Regions from separate parts of the Homo sapiens genome. Here all the other regions are linked to region 1. Evidence: fine-mapped expression QTL. A gene starts in region 1. Each other region holds a variant in brackets. All regions are shown on one strand. Distances are from middle to middle. Region 1 holds the start of TMEM18 (transmembrane protein 18). Region 2 has its middle 13 kb from the start of TPO. Region 3 has its middle 56 kb from the start of TMEM18-DT. Region 4 has its middle 24 kb from the start of TMEM18-DT.

Region 1 (5,147 bases):
TCTCCATCTAAACAATCAGCTGCCTGCTGGGACCTGAGCAATGCAAAGAACAAGAAAGCTATCAAGTACTGGCTTTAATTTGTAGAAAACATTACAGCTCACAAACTTATTTTACCCATTAATAAAGCTCTTGAAAACCAATTGTATGTGGATTAAATAGCTATTTTAGAAATAAACAAAATTGGGCCAGGCGTGGTGGCTCACGCCTGTAATCCCAGCACTTTGGGAGGCCAAGGCAGGCGGATCATCTGATGTCAGGAGTTCGAGACCAGCCTGGCCAACATGGTGAAACCCCGTGTCTACTAAAAATACAAAATTAGCCTGGCATGGTGGCACACGCCGGTGATCCCAGCTACTCGGAAGGCTGAGGCAGGGAGAATCGCTTGAACCCAGGAGGCAGAGGTTGCAGTGAGCCGAGACCCTGCCACTGCACTCCAGCCTAGGCAACAAGAGCAAAACGCAAAAAAAAAAAAAAAAAAAAAAAAAAAAGGAAAGGGAAGAGAAGAGAAGGGTGGCGAGGGAAGGGGAAGGGAGGGGAGGGGCTTCATCCAGTCTTTTCTGGAAGCACAAAATTCCAGGTAAATGGAATAGAGTCCATGTCAGCATTCACATACCAACAGAGAGAGCAGGCCATGTTCTACTGGCCACATTAAAATAGCAAAGAGAAAGAGATTAATTTTATTGATATATTTTATTTGGTCCAGTATGTCCAAAATATAATTTCAACATGTAAGCAAAATAATACAATTGTTGATAATGTATTTTACATTTTGGTACAAAGTCTTTGAAAGATGGTGTATGTTTGAAATTAAAGCACATCTCAGACTGGCGACATTGCACAAGCTTCACGTCTAAATGTCCGGCAGCCTAGCGTTGTTCAGAACGGCAGGGCGGGAGGAATGTGGAAGATGAATGTCCTGGGACTGAAAGTGAAGCTGCTGAGGGCCAGAGTTTTAACAATTTTGGAAACTTGGGTGCCAGGGCGCACAATATATGAAAGATCTGGGAGGGCGGCTGAGGGGAAGATGAAGAGAAAAAATCCCAGTGACCGTAGATAGGCTGTGGTTAATATTAATAGCAAAAAGAGTTTGACCCCAAATTACAGAAGTTACAAGAAAACAGACACCACAAAAGAAAGGCAGGCACCAGACAGGACTGACGATGAAACTAACCCATGGAAATTAATAAGAGTGATGTTTCACATAGTAACGAAATATCATCAGGGAGATACACAGTAACAGGCTGAACTGAAGAGGACAGATCTATTCCCTGTAACTGAAAGGTCCTGTTGAAAATAGCTGAACAAACACAGGGGAGTGAGAATGGACACAGATGAAAACCATCACACCAGCTGGGTGCGGTGGCTCATGCCTGTAATCCCAGCACTTTGGGAGGCCCAGGCGGGTAAATCACTTGAGGTCAGGAGTTCAAAACTAGCCTGGCCAACATGGTGAAACCCCGTCTCTACTAAAAATACAAAAAAAATTAGCCAGGTGAGGTGGCGAACACCTGTAATCCCAGCTACTCGGGAGGCTGAGGCAGGAGAATAGCTTGAACCCAGGAGGCGGAGGTTGCAGTGAGCCGAGGTCCCACCATTGTGCTCCAGCCTGGGCGACAGAGCGAGACATCGTCTTAAAAAAAAAAAAAAAAAACCAGGAAAGCCAAGCCCGAGATTTCCCAAACTCAGCAACAACAGTCGTGATGTTTTGAGAGGAAGGTTGAGAAACACAAAAGAGAGGAAGATGCACTATCTACCTAACGGGATGTTCCTGGAGTTGAATACAGGAAGAATAGAGAAAAATATCAATGAAAGAAATGTTTTCCCATAAGAAGAAACCATGACCTTCTACACTGAAATGAGAGAATGCATGTTAAGTAGCATAAGCAGAAATGACCACACTGTGGAAAGATTTTAAGAAAGATCTGGGAGGGGTTAAAGCTATTAAAAAAAAAAAAAAGTCCACCACTAGAACTATTTTTAGAAACATTAAACTAGTTCAAGAGCTAACATATGCAATTAAAGTATATACACTTAATAATTCATGATGTTAAAATAACAGAATGTTTAATTTGAAAATGTCAAAGTTGGGGTATAGATGTTAAAATAAAGGGAAAAAATTCGCTGGAAGAAAATTAACTTTATATTTTTGTATCTGTCGTTGAACAACGAAGTGAAGCGTAAGAACATCTGGTAAATCTCCAAAGTGAAGACAGATAACCCTAAGCTGACCCAGACTAAGAGTGCACTGCCCTTAGGGTCGCGAGAGCAGACACCTTCCCAAGTCCTGCAGGGTCCGAGGAGTGGGCAATGTCCCCGGCTCCTGCAGGGTCTCGGGGCGGACACCGTCCTCATTGATGCTCTGACCCTTCTAGGGAGTCCCAGGTGGGACAGGGCTGGCGTGGCGGTACAGCGCCCTGAGCCTTTGAAACAAACCTCCTAAATTCCACCCGCCTCCGCCTGCTCCTCTGTTAACGAACTAAAGACGCCCTCGGCCTCCTGGCGGAGCGAGCACAAGTCCCACAGCAGCGTAGTAAGTTTTCCGTATTACAGCGACCACCAGGAAATATCGCGATATCTGGACCTAGCAATGCCATGAAATTACCGCGAGAGGAAGCAAGCGCAAGTTTCGTGAGAAGGGCAGATCTCACGAGAGAGGATTTGGCGCCCTCCTCTGTGGATTCTGGCCAGGCCGGGTTCGGCGGTTGCTGTGAGAGCGGGCTTCCCAACACCATGCCGTCCGCCTTCTCTGTCAGCTCTTTCCCCGTCAGCATCCCAGCCGTGCTCACGGTAACTCGCGGCCCGCGTAACCACCAGTTCGGGGGAGGACGGCGGAGAGGCGTAGGGTAGGCCCCACAGAGCACCCGGCCTGTGGCCAAGAAGGCCCCGGCCGTGGGCGGGGCCTTGTGGCGGAGCGCGCGCGCTGGGCAGGGTCCTGAGACCTGTGGGAGTGGCTCGGGGCCGGCGTCGGGGGCGCGCGCTGTGGGCGGGGTCCTGGGCCCTGTGGGAGGGGGCCGGGGCCGGGCGTCGGGGCGCGAGCGCTAGGCGGGGTCCTGGGCCGTTGGGCGGGGAGGGGCGGGGCCGGGCGGGGCCTTGTGGAGGAGCGTGCGCAGTGAGCTGGCTCCGGCGCTCTGTGGCCCGGGCTTGGGCTGGGCTGGCGTCCTGCACCGTGCGGGCGTGGCTGAGTTGTGTGGGCGGAGCGCGAGGGGTAGGGCTTTGTTCGTGTGGGAGGTGCACGCCGGCCAGTCCAGCGTCTTGCGGGCGGGGCTTGGGCCATGTGGGCGGATTCTGGCAGTGCGGCGGGGCGTGCGTGGTGGAGCCTGATCGTGTGGGGTGGCACGGAGGAACGCTGCCCAGTGTGGGCGGGGCGTGCGCCGTGCCGGGTTCGTCTGACAGATCCCAGGGGAGCCCACGCCCCACGTGGCCGCCAAGGGGTGACATGGGCACTCGATGGGGTCTGGGCAGAAAGCCGTGCTCCCCTCACCTCCGTGCCTCTGGTCTTCTGGTGGGTGCATTGATGGGAGTAGATGCGCTTGTGTCCTTATGTCATGGCGCGGCTCTGGAGAAGCCGCTGCGGTCCCCAGCAGAGAGTAGTGACACAGGAGTTCTGGAGGGCTGTGCCGGGCTGCAGCTTGGAGGGCAGGGCGGGGCTGCAGCTTGGAGGGCAGGGCGGGGCTGCAGCTTGGAGGGCAGGGCTTGTCTTCTGCAGGAGGGCGCTCAAGGAGGGGATGGGGAGGGTTGAGGACTGCTGGGATTGGCATCTGAGCATCAGGTGGGGACTGAGCAGCAGTGGATCTGAGCCTGGCTACTTCAGGTCCCTGAGCCAGACACTGTCCCCAGGTACAGCAGGGTCCCGGGGAGTCCAGGAGGCGGCGGAGTGCGGCACTGTCTGGAGAGTTCAGTGTATTGCAGAGAGGTTGGAGAAAATCAAGTCTTGCACGTGGCGATGGCTCAAGATTCCCTGAGGTCTTCAGTGCTGACTAAGGAGTCTGAAATGATGATTCATGTTTTACCTTTGGGGCTGAGCCAAGTGCATCTCTTTGAGCAATCGTCTTAATTTCCTTGTCGTCACCAATTATCATAACCAATTATCATCGTAAAGGATGGTAATTCCTTTAATTATACCCACCTTAAAAACATGATTCTGTTCCACAAACGAAAGGAGCACATCAGAGATGCCTTCAGTTCTGTGTGCTTGAACTTTGAATTCCATGAATTATAGTTGCACTGAGGGGAGAATCCTGTTTCCATCCTCCTGGTTCCTTCTCCCTTTCCTGTCCCCATGTTTCTCTGAGGCCTGGCAATGCTCTCTGGATACTTGGTGAGTAGCCCAGGAGGACTCAGGAGTGAGAGGCCCCTGCCTCCTGCGCTGGGAGAAGGCTGTGGGTGGGCCGTGAACCCGGCCTTGAGTGGCAGGACAGTGAGTGTCTGCTGGTGTGTTCCTACAGCAGACGGACTGGACTGAGCCCTGGCTCATGGGGCTGGCCACCTTCCACGCGCTCTGCGTGCTCCTCACCTGCTTGTCCTCCCGAAGCTACAGACTACAGATCGGGCACTTTCTGTGTCTAGGTGAGTAAAACAACACAAACTCCACAACTCAGATCACTGTGTGAAATGAAACTGTGTATGTTCTGTCTGTGTCTTCGAAATATATACATATTTTTACAAGACCTCCCAACCCTCTGTCATGTGCCTGCTCCCAGGGCACTCCCGTTTTTCACTCTTGGAAGCTATAAAGAAAACTACTTTTTGGATGTTAGAGTTGAGAGGAATCTGTTGAGTTCCTGTTGCCTACCAGGGAGGTGCTGAGCACCAGCTGCACACAGGAGAGTTGGGTTTCCGGAAGTGCTGTCTTTTACACAAGATGCGTCCTTGGTGGCAGCTGTGCTCATGCACTGCTTTGAATGGGAGGAAGATTGCAAACTGGGAAAGAAAAGTTCTGTGCATAAAATAAGGCATTGCCCAACTTGGTTTCAAGGATAAGGGCTACAGAACTTAGAGAAGTTAGGGAGTTGCACAGGATGACTGAGAAAGATTATTCAGAAAAGCTGAAATCATGGCACAGGGTGTGAAGAGTGAGTAAAATGTTAATAAGAAAAGAGAGGGAGCAGGTGACGGCCCTGGGAGGGCAGCAGCCCGACATGCAGAG
Region 2 (5,147 bases), 720 kb before region 1:
TCAATGAGACATTATCTTTTCCCATATTGCGAGTGACTAAAGATGCAATAATGGTGGCTCCAATGAGGATGCCGGAAATGAAGGACTCACACATTCACCACTGGTGGAAATGCAGATGGGAACCTTTCTGGAGAAACAAACTGGCGCTCAGTTTCCAAATTCAAGATGTACAAAATATGGGGTGATATGGTTCGGATGTGTCCCCCCTCAATCTCATCTTGAATTGTAGCTCCCATAATTCCCAGGTGCTGTGGGAGGGACCCAGCGGGAGATAATTAAATCCTGGGGGCAGTTTTCCCCCTACTGTTCTCCTGGTTGGTGCTGAGTAAGTCTCATGAGATCTGATGGTTTTATAAGAAGTTTCCCCCTTTGCTTGGCTCTTATTTTCTCTTGCCTGCCACCATGTAAGACATGCCTTTCACCTTCTGCCATGATTGTGAGGCCTCCCCAGCCATATGAAATTGTGAGCCCATTAACCCTCTTTTCCTTTATATAAATTGACCAGTCTCGGGTATGTCTTTATCAGTAGCACGAAAATGGACTAATTCACTGAGGAAACAGGAAATCCCCCACCCCCCTTGGCTCCGTGTTGGCTCCCAGACTGGCTGGCTCCCTGCTTGCTCTGTGCTCCCGTCTCTTCCTAAGCAGGTCCTTCGGGGTCTGGAGATTCCACGGGGCCAGGCATTACCAGCAGTCTTGCTTCCTGTGCCTTCCCTGTGGGATTTAGGGGGTACTCTTCCTCTTTCACTATCTGCCCCCAGAGTCAGGGAGTCCTCCCGTGGATGCCGACCGCAGCTCACTGGGCAGGGTGGCCTTTACAGGTGGTCCCTGGATGAGCCCTGGGCCACTTGCATCTGAGGCATTGGTTAGGTGGAGAGGCTTGGGGCCCACTTGGCTGCATACGGAATCCACAGGATGGAGATGTGGCCAGAGGTAACCGTCAGCCCTTTCATCCTGAAGTCTGTGCAACATTCTCTGATCCAGATGAGGAGCAGCCAGGAAGCAGCATTTGGGTGCCCTCCACCTGCCCACTCACACAGCCTGCGTGGGTCTGGCTGGCTTTTGTCTCATGGCTTGCTCGGTAGGATCTCTGAGTAAATGGCTGGCTCGCGGCACTCAGTGCCCTTTGACTCCTAACCTATACCCTTGGACCCACAGTTCCAAATCTGGAATTTATCCTAACAGTCAGACAAATACCCACAGGGGTGTGTACTTTCAGGATGTGCTGCAGAGTGGCTTTGCAGGCTAGAGTTTCCTGGGAGGTCATCACTGAGATATTGGTTCAAGGCACCTGCTCAGCCCACACTCTGGCAGAAGACACTGAGGCAGGATTTGAGGTACAGAATGCTTATTAGGGATCAAACCCATGCCAGGAGGAGGAGGTAGCAGGATGGGCAGAGGGAGAAGCTCAGGGCTGTGCAGGCTCTGCTTGTCTGGTCCTGAGGGGAGCTATGGGGCTGTAGCTGGCCTGGCTGGGTCATGGGTGTAGCTGCCTGGTGGGTAGTGTCAGCATTCTCGCTGGGAGGACACTAGGCTGGGAAGGCTCCAGGGCTGGGGTTCTTGAGTGAGCAAACCAAAGCCCATTGTAAACAGAAAAAGAGAACTAGCGACTTTACTAATCAGAAACCACCAACTCCCCTGTGGCTGGGGCTCCTGCTCTAACTGATTGGGTGCATTGTCTCTGTCTTCCTTCCCCATCCATCTGAGAGGTCACTGCCCTCGCTCTTCTCTGAACCTCCTCTGTTTCCGAGTGCTGCCCAATTCACGAGTCTTCTAATGGTCAAGTAAACTCACTTCAATGTGTTTTGCCTAAAGTTTTACTTTTATCAGGGTGACTTTCTTTCAGCAGGGTGATTGTGATGTGCACGCTGCCTACAGCTCAGGCCAACCTGCAGGCACAGATATGGGAGGCTCTGCTAATGGGAGCCTCAGTCTCCTGGAGGGGACTGGAGGTGAAGCTCTCTGAGCTTACAGCAAGGTGAGGAGTATCCAGACCTACAAGGACAGACATCAGGTTGGAAAGTCAGCACAGGAGACTATGACGCACAACAGTTACTTCAGGCCACGAGGAAGGCTTGGAAAAGGAATGTCCTTTTTACTTGTATTGCTGGATTTTTTGCCACAAGGATACATGATTAGAAAGGAATCCAGCTTTTGAGATTTTTGTAAAAAGAAAAAGGCATTTTAAAAAGATCCCCTTTGGCTTACCCATTAATGTCTGACTTGACAAGACATGAAGACTCCACATGAAGTTAATTTTCAATTCTTGCTGATAAAAATCTTGGATAAACTAACAGCTACAATAAAAGCCTGCATCAGTTCCACTGAAACGTGAAGGAAATTTACGTTTTCATTTGTGCTGCTTGGGCAATTTTGCACATCATAAGTGAAATTTGTTTTTTTTTTTTTTGAGACGCATGTAATGTAAAGTCACAAATATTTCTTTTTTTTTTTTTTTTTTTTGAGACAGAGTCTCACTTCTTTATCCAGGCTGGAGTGCAGTGGTGCAATCTCAGCTCTTTACCCAGGCTGGAGTGCAATGGTGCGATCTCAGCTCTTTACCCAGACTGAAGTACAATGGTGTGATCTCAGCTCACTGCAATCTTTGCCTCCCAAATTCAAGCAATTCTCCTGCCTCAGCCTCCCGAGCAGCTGGGATTACAGGCACATGCCAGAACGCCCAGCTAATTTTTATATTTTTAGTAGAGACAGGGTTTCACCATGTTGGCCAGGCTGGTCTCAAACTCCTGACCTCAAGTGATCCACCTGCTTCGGCCTCCCAAAGTGCTGGGATTACAGCCGTGAGCCACCGCAGCTGGCCTATTTTTGGTTTTCAATTAATAGCTGGTTGCAACTTCAAGTATTTTTTTATAACCTAGGAGCCTCTCCCCTATCTTTGATAATAACATTTCAAACATAATTTTTTCTAAATGCAAGAAGCTACTGCAGAAAATAGACAGGGACAGTGCCACATGAGGGCTGAAAATAAAGGTCAAGAATGTCCACACTGGGAAGGGGAAGAGAGCCCAGGGGCGTCTGGCTGGAGAAGAGGGAAGGGTGGCGGCCATGGGTGGCAGC[T/A]CCCATTAAGTGGGGCTACCAGTAAAATGCAGGACACTCACCTAAACATGAATGTCAAATAACAAGTAAGATTTCCATGTAAGGATTTTCCTGTGCACCCGTTGATGTGCCTTGTTCCTATTTGCAGAACCTGGTGCTCCTAGAGAGGTGTGAGTGAGTGAAGACAGGTGTCCTTCAGAGAAATTCATGCAAGGAAGGCAGATTGAGGCCACATGGGGAGGAGGCAGGAGCCCCAGGCCCTGGGATGGGAGAGGCTCCCGAGGCACTGGAGATCTGCAGAGATGGAAAGGGTGGGCAACAGGGCCTCTGATCTTCAGATTTGCTTTCTGCAGTTTCAGTTCCCTGTGGTTAACCTCAGTCTGAAAATATTACATGAAAAATTCCAGAAATAAACAACTCATCGGTTTTAAATCATGCATCATTCTGGGTATTGTTATAATTGTTCTGTTTTATTATCAGTTATGGTGGATCTCTTACTATGCCTAATTTATAAACTAAGCTTCACCGTGGGTATGTGTGTAGGAAAACACAGCATACATAGGACTTGTTCTCTCCATGGCTTCAGGTGTCCACTGGGGTCTTGGAAAGATTCTCCTTTGGATAAGGGGGCTGCTGTATTGGAAAGGCCAGAGTTGGAAGCCCATCGTCAGGCTGCTGATGCTGCTGGAGAAGCTCCGCGCAGAAAATGCAATCTGGTGATGATGCCCAGGAGGGCTTGGAGAGCACGTGGCTCTGCCTCCCTCGGGGGGGCTGGACATTTCATGAGGACTCACCTGGGGCAGACAAGGGAGGGATGGCTGAACAGAGGAGGGCATGGGTGAACCCAGAGTCCTGTCCTGCAGAAACAACTGCAGCCGCCACCTGGGAAATGCACCTGCAGGGAAGGTGGGGCTGGTCTCCAAGAAACAGAAGAGGGAAGAAATGTCTCTGGTCTGGTTCCTGGAAAGGAGAATGTGAGCGTGGCTTGCAGAGGAGGTGAGGGCCTGGCTGCAGGGAGAGCCCAGCCTCCTGGGCCTGGAGCTTCCTCAGGGGCCTGGCAGTGGCTGCTCAAGGAGTTTGGTGCCAGCGCCCCCCACCCTCTGTCAGTCCTGGGTCATGGCTGCAGGTGAGGGGGCACAACCTTCCAGGCACCTTCTCTGCACTCCCTGGCCCCTGCAATCCTCAGCTGGGCTGCAAGGAGAGCCTTGGCCCCAGCACCCCATTCCTTGGGGGAAGGGCACCCCCACAAAGCCAGAGATAGAGACCCCCACGCAAGCGGTGCAGGAGGAAACCAGGGCTTGCCTGCACATGAACCAGGTGATATTCATGACCTCTCCCACTGCAGTTTTGTCCAGACCCTCCCTGCCCAGCTAGATAAATGCTGAGCTGTGGGGAGGCAGAGAAGGGACAGAGGTCTCCGCCTGTGATGTCTGCAATGCTGGGGCCACAACAGGAGCCGCCCACTGGGTGAGGTCTGAGAACCCATGGAGTGGTCTTTGCTTCTGAGCTGGTGCCGGGTGGTGGCCAGCCTTGTTTGCAGTGGGAAGCCAGGCAGGCGTGGGGTGTGGGTGTCTGGGGAGATGGCCTGATTGAAACCCACAAGTTTCCAGCCGTGCCAGAGCTGGCATAGAAGTGATCCAAAGGCAACAGTAGTTTGTGGGCAGCGCGGCAGTCAGGAGATGGGCCCCAGGCTGCCTGCAGGATACAGGGAGGCCACCACACATCACTGGGTGCCAGCAGGCATCTGTGGTTCCCCTAGGACTGATGGGGAGATGCCAGCAGAGAGTGGGGAAAAGACAGAAGCCCTGGCCACAGTCCTGTCCCTCACCGGAGTCATCCCTGAGTGAGGGAGGAATGAAAACTATGCCTGGTTTTTCTTGGAGTTGACTGGATTTATTTTCCTTCACTGTCTGGAAGTGGAGCTTAACCAAGAGATGAAGTTGCATGCCTGAAAATGTGCGGAACGCTACTTTTCTTGTACCCTTTGTTTGTGGCATGGGAAGTACTTTTTTCTGCACAAGGTGCATATTTGGAACTCTGGAAGTTTTGACCCCAGGTACGCCCCATGGGAGCTGGATAAAGGAGCTTCT
Region 3 (5,147 bases), 56 kb after region 1:
ATTACCCTGGCTTGATCATTACACATTGTAGACATGTATTGAAATATTGCATGTACCCTGCAAATATACAGCTATTATGCATCAATAAAAAATGAAAAAAAAAGGTCCCTTCATGGAAACAGGAAAACAAACATGGAATTTCTCCTTAAACTGATCAGCGAGGCCTCTCCGTTGTTTCAATCTCTAGTTATCAATGGACAATGGAGCTTCAGGGTTCTGCAGGAAGAAGAACTTCCTTGGCTGAAGAAACTTCTAGAAGCCACGTTGTGAACGGGTAGCTCCTTTCTCCTCTGCCTACAGACTCAGTGCTCCAGGGCCCCAGCACCATCCTCCATTTGCTTTAGAGGGTGACACTCACACAGCACCCACGCCGCCCCAGCCCATGGCTGGTGACCTCGGTTGACTGTGGCATCACCTAGACACCATACCTTCTGCTGATGTCAGGAATGAGAATAATCTATCATTTAGGGTCCCAGGAGATGGAGAGTTCAGCTTTTAATGAAGCACAGAGCTGAAGCAGTCATCAGCACAGCCTGCAGTGTTGCTCCTGGCCCCAGCGCCTGCAGCTGGTTGGAAAGCCGGTCTCACGTTGAATGCCCAGCATGCCTCTGGGAACACAAGATCATCTTCCTTTACCTTGTGACAGCAGACATTTTCCCAGGAGCAGGTCACATCATGGTTTAGGGTTGGCATCATGGAAATATGGGTGGGCTTTAAAGGTGCGTGTTGAATCAGTTCTGTGACGTCTCTTGGCCTTACTTCCCTCACGTGCACAGCATGAATAATGATGCCTCTCCCAGGCTGATGCCAAAATTAGTAAATGAAATCATCGGTAAAGACCCTCACGCAGGGTCTTGCACAGAAAGATTGGTCAACAACAGCAGTGACTTTCCTTTCCTTTCTGGCTTTTAAAATTTTTAATATGTGCTTTCTCTGTCCAAGGGGATGTCAATGCTACCAGTGACTGGAAAGCTGGTATTAGGCCTGGACAAAATGTGACCTCTAACTTGAATTCATGACTTAACACAAATCTGAAAATAAGTTATTTTATGGGGCATATTCCTGTCCTGGTATTTCACAATGCTTCTATTGAATAAATGTCATCTGACCTTTACAGATGAGCCCACTCATTTTTTGTTTCTGCATAAATAGCTCAAATACAACCCAAGATTTATTTCATTATGAAATATTGTTAAAGTATCATAATGCATTTTCCTTCCAACATACTTCTAGTTTGTTTTTATCTGGAGCATGGAAAATAAGCAACAGTGAAAGTCAGGACTAGAAAATGACCTTTTATATTGCCATAAATGCAACCCCCAGAACTAATAAAGAAAAAATTCAGGAGGGAACAGCACAAAAAGAAATGCATATTTTATTTCCATGTTAGTCTCAAATATAACAGGCCTCAAAAATCCCTAACGGCTGATGCATACAGCTCTGGGTGAGTGACTCCAAAGTAAGATAATGAGTTGAGCTTGGCTGCCGCTCCATTAGGGAGCTGATGAGATGCAAGCTGCTGCCCCTCTTCCTCCCATGAAGTTTGAAGCATCATCGGAAACCGTCAGGTGAAACTGCCTGGAAGATGAAGCAATTCATCAAAGGCCAGGCTGTGGCCGTGTACCTTACGTAATGCTAATCAAAATAAATTAGAATTGGAAACAGCGTTTCCGGTAACCCTGCAGAATGGTGAAGGTGTTTTGCTCCCAGCTATTTAGCGGCAGTATGAACATCTACGTAACCTTGCTGACTTACTGTGAGAGTCATTCTCCTGAAAAGAGGCAAATCAGCTTTGTGAGATTCACTAGAGTCGAGGCAAATTGAGATTTGTTTGTATGTAATACTGTTCTTCATTTTGACATCATGGAAAGGTCTTTAAAATCTTCCTGAACTTTGATGGCAAATAAGAGGCTTCAACTTTCAGAAATCTATGCCATCTTTCCATGGCACGGGAAGGGCTGCTTCCTGCATTGTGTCTGTTTAAGCTGTGGGAATCTAAATGCGTGTACGCAGAGGGACCTGAGAAGGTGGCCGTGCTCGCCTGGGAACACGCCAGGGTGAGTTCACAACAATTGCCCTAATGTGCAATAAAACACAGGGACGGGCTCCAAGAAGGCCGAGAGGGACGCAGCCACCCGGGAGAACACACTGTTCGGGTCTGCGGTCCCAGCGCCGGATCCCAGCTGGCCTGGGCTCTGCCTGGACACTACCCTAGCAGAGCTCTGGCCACGTGGGGTGGGCTGCCTGTTCTCAGGACGCGCTCTCCCTGCCTGGGCCGCCGCTTAGGGTGCTGTCTCCACTCGCCAGGACGCGGCCGCAGGACCGGGGCGAAGGCACAGCTCCGCTCTGGCTGGTCCCCAGGGCCAACCCCTGTGACGGTCTTTTGTTCTTAGCGCTCAAGACGTTTTTCTACAGTCCTCCTTGAGAGCGCAGAAGACATCCCACTCCCCCAGTACCTCCACGTAACCTGGGAACCGATTTTAGGAGACGCCCCCTGGAAGTCAGGCTTTGCCCCAGGGAGCGGCCCTATCGGGTGGAAAACCAGGGTTTCTTCAGTTCTCAGGGTCTGGATGACCGTGTTGCCTCAAGCAAAAGCGGGGTTTACTTGCTGGAAAGGAGAGTTGGAGACAAGGTGACAGCTGGACTCGGGGCCTCAGATGACATGGCCGGGCCCTCTCTCCTCTCCCCGGCACCGGCGCTGGGTCTGGTCCCTTGATGTGAGCTTTCTCCAGGG[A/T]CACCTCCGCCTTTGAGTCGCCAAACCAGGGCTCCCGGGAGAGAGGGAGGCTCCCGACTGCGCGCGCCCCAGGGCGGAGGAGGCTCAGACTCGCCTGCGCGCCCCCTTGACCTCGGAGCGCCTCTAGGACCTGAGCCCAGAGCGCACGGACATCCGCGGCCCCCAAGTGGCCTCCAAGGACCGGACCGCGGAGAGGGGCGCGCCCAGCCGGAGGCTGGGAAGGAAGTGGAGCAGGCCGACCTGAGGGCGTGGCTCCCTGTGCTCCGGGGATGGAAGCGTTTATGTGGCACCGACTGTATGCACGGTGGGGACTGAATCCCTGGGCAGCCTGCGGGGAGGCGTCGTACCTGCCGCGTGAAGGTGGAAGCGGCCGTGGGAGGCGCAGGACCAGGCCCAGGGCAGGCAGTTGGCTCCGGAGCGCGCGTTCTCACAGCTGAGTTTAGGATCACCATATCATCTCTCACCCAAATCAAGAAACTCTGGGAGCACAATGGACCCTAATTATAATGACAGAGGAGCCGCAGGCCTGGACCGGGCAGCTGCGGCCTCTCTCAGCCCCAGTCCCGCCTTCCCGCGTGGATCCGGGCAGCCTGGCGTGGCCTCCGCAACGCGCAGCGGGGACGCGGTGACCCCAGAGCTCGGCTGCTCGCAGGGTCCACACGTGAAGAACTCGGGGCTCCTCTGAGCTGCAACCCTAGATGTCTAGCGATGACGTCACCCGCCCAGCCACATGCCACTAATTTAGAAAAGACATTCAGCCACAGTTTTGATTTTCTCTGAGTCAGGATGGAAAATGAAATGAACTACTAATTTTTTGTTGTTTTTCTCTTATAAATATGAATGCTGGAATCTGGTGATGATCAAGGATTTTAAGATAAATGAGCAATTCATTTTTAAGCTGAACGGAGCTATTTATTCTAAAATAAGTTTCTGTTTCTTTTTTCCCCCCAGATTCCTTGTAATTTCACAGTTGAATGATTACCTTTTTCCTGAACCATTTATACCCTCGCTGGTCTCGCTATGGCCATTAACCCTGGCTAAAATGTCACCGGTGGGCTACCTCTGCCCCCCTCCTCATGGTCAGGGAGGAGAGACGACTGTGCCGACTCCGAAGCCAACTCCTGGGCACTTCTGGGCGATCGCCCTCCCCGCAGAGCGTCTCCTCCTGCGGGCTGCAGACACCGCCTTTCCCTGCCAGGTTGTGCCTGTCCAAGCAGGAGCTGAAGGGCTGTGGTGAGAGGCTCACACTCCTGCGGCATTCCCACCTTGGAACACCTTTCTGAAATTCTGCAGTACCCTGAGCATGCTGATTTTTCGTGGTTTTGTCCTTGTTTTTCTAGTTTTCAGGGAGAGGGAAGTTTGCTGAAGCCATGGGCACATCCCTGCTGCAGGCCCCTCTTCCTGCATGCCCACAGTCACCCTCCCGGGAGCCTTTGCACCCAGACCCCACCCTGCCCAGAGAGGCCTCTCAGGCACAGGGCCTGGCGAGGGGAGGTCCCCATTGCCTGACTCTGCTGCCAGTCATTAAAGTGTGACCAGAAAAGGTAGGATGTTTAACTGGAGTGCAGGTTCCCAGGGCTAGCAAGTTACTGCAACTTCATAGGTGCATCTAGCCTTGAACTTTGAGGGAGGGTTCCTAAGCAAAACGAAATAGAAGCAAAACTCTGCCCTGCATGAAAAAGGGGACCCTGGGAAATAGAAGGAAACGTAAAACACAAAGCATTTAAATGTAAACCTTTATAATACTTAAAAATACTTTTAATTTGTGCCATTTTAGATACACAATGTATAAGTTCTCTCTTAGTGGATACGTATTGTTTAGTAACGTAGTGCGGTGCTAAATAGTGTTGATTTAAGATCAAAACTAAGATTATATTAATTAATGAAAGCACAAATGACAGGCAGCAGTTTTGAGAGAAGCGCTGGATGAAGCCTGCCTGTCATCCCTGCCTCTCCTCACTCCACTCTGCTGCGTTGCTTTGCTTGGCCAGGTTGGTCGCAGGGGCAGACAGGAGTGGACGCCATCTTTCCCTCCTAGCACATGGTCCTCCTTGCTCTTTTGAGCAAAGCCTCTGACCCTTTTTCTTTCCTCCACCTCACCTGATTTTCCTCTTTTCTGCTTTCCTTTCTTCCTTTCTTTCCCTCTGCCTCCATCAGCCATTCCATAGTGTTTACTATGTGGCTTTCCACAAGTTATATAAAATATGCATTGTCATCTTGTCCACATGTATTTTTATTTTGAATTTTTCATAAATAGTAGCATTTTACAAATTTCATTCAGTTCTTTGCATTGATTCCTCCACACTGTGGTTTTAACATTGCTCACATACAAGTGTTTTAAAATCCCTCACTGTGCACCTGGATCTATCCTGTTCTCCTTTAGACACAGGGCAGGTGAGCCCCAAAGCGGAGC
Region 4 (5,147 bases), 24 kb after region 1:
ATCGCAGCACTTCATCCCTAATGTGGAAAATCTAGAACATCTCCTGTTACAGACACTTAAGGCCCTCAGGTGCCTCTCACTTCCCAGCACTAAGGACACATGCATTGGGTTTTCTTATGGCTGCACCCCAGTCTTGGTACAAAATCTCTTTTACTTACTAGTACCTTGTGATGAACAACCTCAAGCCTCAGCTAATGAAAACAGCAGCAGTCACAGTGTTGCTCACAGATCTGTAACTTGGGCAGAGATCCCAGGAGACAGCTTGCCTTTGCTTCATACACTTCAGCTTGGGGCAGCAGGAAGTTTCACTTTCCACATGGACTTGCCCTTGTGACTAGCTGGTTGGTGTTGATCAGCAGCAAGGGCTGTGGGTTGGGGCCATGGCAGGGCAGGCCATACAGGCCTCCTCATGGCCTCTTGGGCTGCCTCACAACAAGGTGGCTGGTTCCAAGAACAAAAGTCTCAAGACAACAAGGTGCATCACTTTTTCATCCCATGTCATCCCACTCACAGGGGAAGTCACAAAGACTGCCTGGGACCCAGGACAGGGACACGGCACCCCATATCCTGGTAGGTGTGTCAAAGTCAGAGTCCCACTGTGAAGGAGCAAGTGTGATGAGGGCTTGTCTTGTGCCGTCTTTGGAAAATGCAATCAGCCACTGCTGATTTTTTCTGTGTGATTAATTATGTGGTTTTCTCTTGGGGGAGGAGTGTCCAGGTATATTTTAATGGTTTGACAATGTTCTACTTGCCATAGACAACACAGTGTTCATTTTTTCTTAGGCTTTATAACTTTGATGTGTAATACATATGTTCCTCTGTGAGACTCAAATACTTCACTTAGAAAATCTCATCATCTGACAACCTCCTTTGCCTGTGCAGAGCTGTGGTGAATTTTCCATCGCTCTTAGGTCCTCAGAATAAAACCCAATGCCTGCACCACGTGTATGACAACCTTTGTGACGTGGCCTCCACGGAGAGCCTCATTTTTAGGATGGTAACTTACTCAGAGTGCTGCACCCGCACTGATCCTGTAGAACAAGTGTCTTTCCTCGTAGTGGCCCCAGCAGGCTTCCGCCTCTGCTCAGAGCGTGCCTCTGGCTGAGGCTTATGTTGATCTGCTTCTGCACGGCCATCACCTCCTCAGAGGGGACTTCCTGGGCCCCCATCTAAAGTGTCACCCACTCATCTCCACCCAGAAGCCCCACTTTATATTATATTACAGAAGTTTTATCTAAACTCATTCTGCTCCCTGATGAACTCGCTTGCACTTCCTTAAATGCACACTGGAAGGTGTGCATCCCGAGGGCAGAGCCTGTCCTCCCTGTGCCCCAGTGCTGGGAGCCATGTTTACATCAGAAACCTCCTGGGAAGTGGTTTTGAGTGAACCATTTCATCACAACAACCCTGTAAGGTAAATGATATTATTTCCATATTTTAGATGAAAAAAGAGATTTCCAGAAAAATGAAAAATTCTGCAGTCCACAGTGATGTTGGTATGGGATCTGGAGCTGTCGTGGCCCAAAGCCAGAGTCCTTTTCTCCTTCCTGACTCAGTGCTGTCAATCTCTGATGTCAGAAGAGCGAGCACCGAAGACAGAAAACAGCGTCCTACACTCAGCGGCAAGGAGAGTTTGAGGAACACACAAGGAGATCTGGAAGCCCGTGGTGTTGCCTCCTCACCAGGAGGCCATGGTGGTCTTGGGAGGTGCCCATGCTCTACTCTGTGTGCCAGCTGAGCAGGAAGTGGACAGAGAAGCAAGGTTGGGTCACATTCTCTGTGTAGAGTGTTTCTCCTTCTCATCATATGTTTATATACTTGGAGGGGATGGGTGGAGATTTCTTGCACGCATGGATTGTGTGGTGGTGAAGGTGGGGCAGCTGTCACCCGAATAGTGAGCATCATATCCCACAGGCAATTCCCCAGCCCTCAGCTACTCCCCACCTCCCACCTTCTCCAGTGTCTGTGCATCCGCTCTGCACATCCACATGTGTTCCCACCTTCTCCGGTGTCTGTGTGTCCGCTCTGCACGTACACATGTGTAAAGAACTTGACACTGCGACCCGGTCAGGAGACAGCGGCAGGTGTGTGAGGCACGAAGCCAGGAGGAGCCGGGGCTGCAGCACAGCAGGGAAATAATAAATTTGTGCTGGAAAAGGGTGCTTGGGAGGAGAATCTAAGAACCTCATGGAGAAACATGGTTTGGGTACGAGAAGGAATTTGTCCCACATTAAGAAGTAGATAGAGGCATATGTTTTGCGAACCCTGGGAAATGGATGGGAACCCCCAGGCCCCAGGTGCCCCATGCTTCCCACAGTGGACGCCATGAGGACAGCCTCAGCTCACTGTCAGGACCTCCACCTCCAGTGGGTCAGCTCCCTGGCACCCAAATATGCGAGGCTACTACACGCCAGGCACTGTGGCTGGTGTTTCAAGAAGCTGTCAAGGTCATACAGATACAAAGTCCACAAGCTGGAAGCAGAGACTGGGGCCGGTGATAGAAGTTGACCACCCCTTCTGTGGCTCCCCACCCCTAGCTGAGAGTCCAGGTGGAAGTGAACCAAGCTCCTAGACAATGTGGAACGTACCGTTTAGGCGTTGAAGGAAAGCATGAACACTTGTATTATCTCAGCCACGGGGAAGACTTGACAGAGCCACTGATTTACAGCAATCTTACTGTGGCCTGTACCCAGTCTGTGAGAAAACTATGCAATCATACAAGATTGTATTTAAGGTTCAATATGTTTTTAATTTTTCAAAAGACATCACTTGGGGGTAGGCCCAGATTGGAGAAGCAGGAGGTTTAGGAGCCGATGAAATGGAAGGTGTGGATGTGGGAGGACACTGCGGAAAGACAGCTGAGCCTGCAGGTCTCATTCTACGCACCTCAGGTCGGTTCTGTGGCCGTGCTGGGTTCCTTGGTCAAGGTGGACAGCTGAGCAGCTGTTT[C/T]TCTCTGCTTCTTCCAAGTCCCCATTAAAATTATGATAATAAAATGGAAAGATGGAGACCAGCAGTCAAGTGAGTAGGGCAGGGGTCATGAACTTGAGCCCAACACAGGAAGCTTGAAGAGCATGGAAGCCACAGAGAGAGTCTCCCTCCCTGCAAAGGAACAGCGACTAGGTGAAAGGCAAATTCTCACCAGCAACAGAGACAGGAAGCCTCCAGCTGCTCAGAAACCATGTCCATCAATTCAACTCTTGAGAATAAAGGTTGAATAAGGACATTCTCAGAAGAAAAGAAGAAATCTTATGAAAATAAAAACACTATCCTAGAGTAAGATAAACAAAACAAACAAAAGTTGTAAGAATTTGAAAGAAAGAAGAAAAAAATGTGTTCTTAATCGTAGATGATATTTTCTACAGAGAAATCCCAAAATAAGATATAGATAGATGATAAATACTAACAAGAGAGTTGGGGGAGATCACTCGATATAAAGATCAATGTACATCAATTTGTTTTTATAACAAAATAGACAGCTAGAAATGCATTTTATAAAAGATGTCTTTTACAATATCAACCAAAATTGTAAGTTTCCAAGAAACTAATCTAAAATATGTACAAGATTTTTATGAATAAAATTACAAAATTGTTTTAAAAGATGTAAAGATGGCTTAATGGAAACATATGCCATATTGACAGGTAAGAAAAGCTGATGTCACACATAAGGGGTTTCCAGATTGGTCTGCAGAGTCAAGCCCAGCCCAGTGTGACCTGAAAGTGACCCTGAGTGCAAAGGCCCTGGATCTGCCAAGAGACTCCTGAGGACAGGAGCAGCCCATGCTCTGACGGATACCACGGCCGCTCACGGATTCTTGGCAATTCCTGCACTGCGGTCTGGGTGAAGTGAAGGGAAGCACTCATAGGTGGCCCCACAGGCCCAGGTATGGCCCAGCGGGTGTGGGCTGTGGTGGGAAGGACGGGCTGCAGCCGGGGGACCAGGCCTTCACCGGGCACCGCAACAGCCCACGGTTCCTGGAATGAATGTACCTCGGACCTCACAGCTCAGCAGCCATTAATTCCCACACGCCCAGGTGTGGCCCAGCTGGGTACAGGCCACAGTGGGAAGGATGGGCTGCAGCTGGGGGACCAGGCCTTCACCGGGCACCACAACAGCCCATGGTTCCCGGGCTGAGTGTGCCTCTGACCTCACAGCTCAGCAGCTGTTAATTCCCATGGCTCAAGGACTTGTGGATGCTGAAACCCTAAACCTTCTACAGGAGAAATGAGAGAACAGATTTCTGACTTTGGTGCAAGGACAAATGTTCTAAACAAGATCTAAAAATCCATTAACAATACAGAGAAAATGGACAAAGTTGACTACATTAAAAATACGAATTTATCTTTTCAAAGTTCTATTGTTCCACACCACTGTAGGAAGATTATAGTAAACAAGAATAGACAGTTTCAAGTAGCTGGAAGGATACTGAGTGTTCCCTACACAAAGACGTGGTCAGTGTTTGCATGGCTATGCTAATTACCCTGACCTGAGTGGCACAGGCATGCATCAAAGCATCACTGTCTACGCCGTAAAGATGCACAAGAATCATGGGCCAGTTACAACAAAATCTACATCTTCAAGTCATTTGAAAACATAGAAACTGGTAGAAGGTTGGCAGCACACAGATTAATAATTAGCAAAGACATTTATGTCCAGAGTATATGGAGAATTTCTAAGAATCCACAAATAACTGAAAAACCAGGCAAGAGGGAACTGGGCAGAACCATGCAGAGCCCATGCATGAGGAAGATAGAATAAGACGCTCTGGATGAAAATGGACTCATACGCTCTAATTAGCAGCCCCTTGTTTGTTATTTAGTTCAACTCCTTATTTTCTGTAAATCCCAAAGGCTGGGTCCTTTGCCGGCAGCAGGTATGAATGGAAAGGGAAAAAAATGATGGTGGCTCCGAGACGCACTAGAGCCTTCTCCATGGGCCAAGCAGGACCGTCTCCTTCACGTCAGACCATGCCTCCAAGGTGATGGAGCCATTTTACGATGACATCTGCTGCAGCCACAAGGAATAAGAAAACTCAGGTATTGATCTTTCTACCTCATTCGCCTCTAAATGCAGGGACGTGTGGGGGTCCCGTTGCAGCCTCTGAAGAGCAATCTCCTGTGCAGTTCCTCACTCAAAAACAAAACCGAGC

What was found. PIP is the estimated chance that this variant, and not a neighbour inherited with it, causes the effect.
Region 2: its variant is the best candidate, but not a certain one, in a credible set for the expression of TMEM18 in gastroesophageal junction (GTEx, PIP 0.59).
Region 3: its variant is the best candidate, but not a certain one, in a credible set for the expression of TMEM18 in whole blood (INTERVAL, PIP 0.59).
Region 4: its variant is the best candidate, but not a certain one, in a credible set for the expression of TMEM18 in whole blood (INTERVAL, PIP 0.50).

The regions. Positions count from the first base shown.
Region 1 is chr2:674,930-680,076 of GRCh38, reverse strand. TMEM18 (transmembrane protein 18) reads left to right here and starts at 2,671. Exons shown (of 5, transcript NM_152834.4): 1 at 2,671-2,788; 2 at 4,447-4,567. The coding sequence starts at 2,732. TMEM18-DT (TMEM18 divergent transcript) reads right to left here and starts at 2,705. Exons shown (of 3, transcript NR_183417.1): 1 at 2,604-2,705; 2 at 1-33. RefSeq lists enhancers at 2,529-2,598, 2,629-2,728, 2,631-3,396 and a silencer at 2,889-3,138.
Region 2 is chr2:1,397,885-1,403,031 of GRCh38, reverse strand. It overlaps a transcript of TPO not described here. Among named protein-coding and RNA genes, the nearest start is that of TPO, 13 kb to the left of the region's middle. The variant T/A (reference allele first, on the strand shown) is at 3,079.
Region 3 is chr2:618,948-624,094 of GRCh38, reverse strand. No RefSeq gene overlaps it. Among named protein-coding and RNA genes, the nearest start is that of TMEM18-DT, 56 kb to the left of the region's middle. RefSeq lists an enhancer at 3,216-3,805. The variant A/T (reference allele first, on the strand shown) is at 2,735.
Region 4 is chr2:651,018-656,164 of GRCh38, reverse strand. No RefSeq gene overlaps it. Among named protein-coding and RNA genes, the nearest start is that of TMEM18-DT, 24 kb to the left of the region's middle. The variant C/T (reference allele first, on the strand shown) is at 2,950.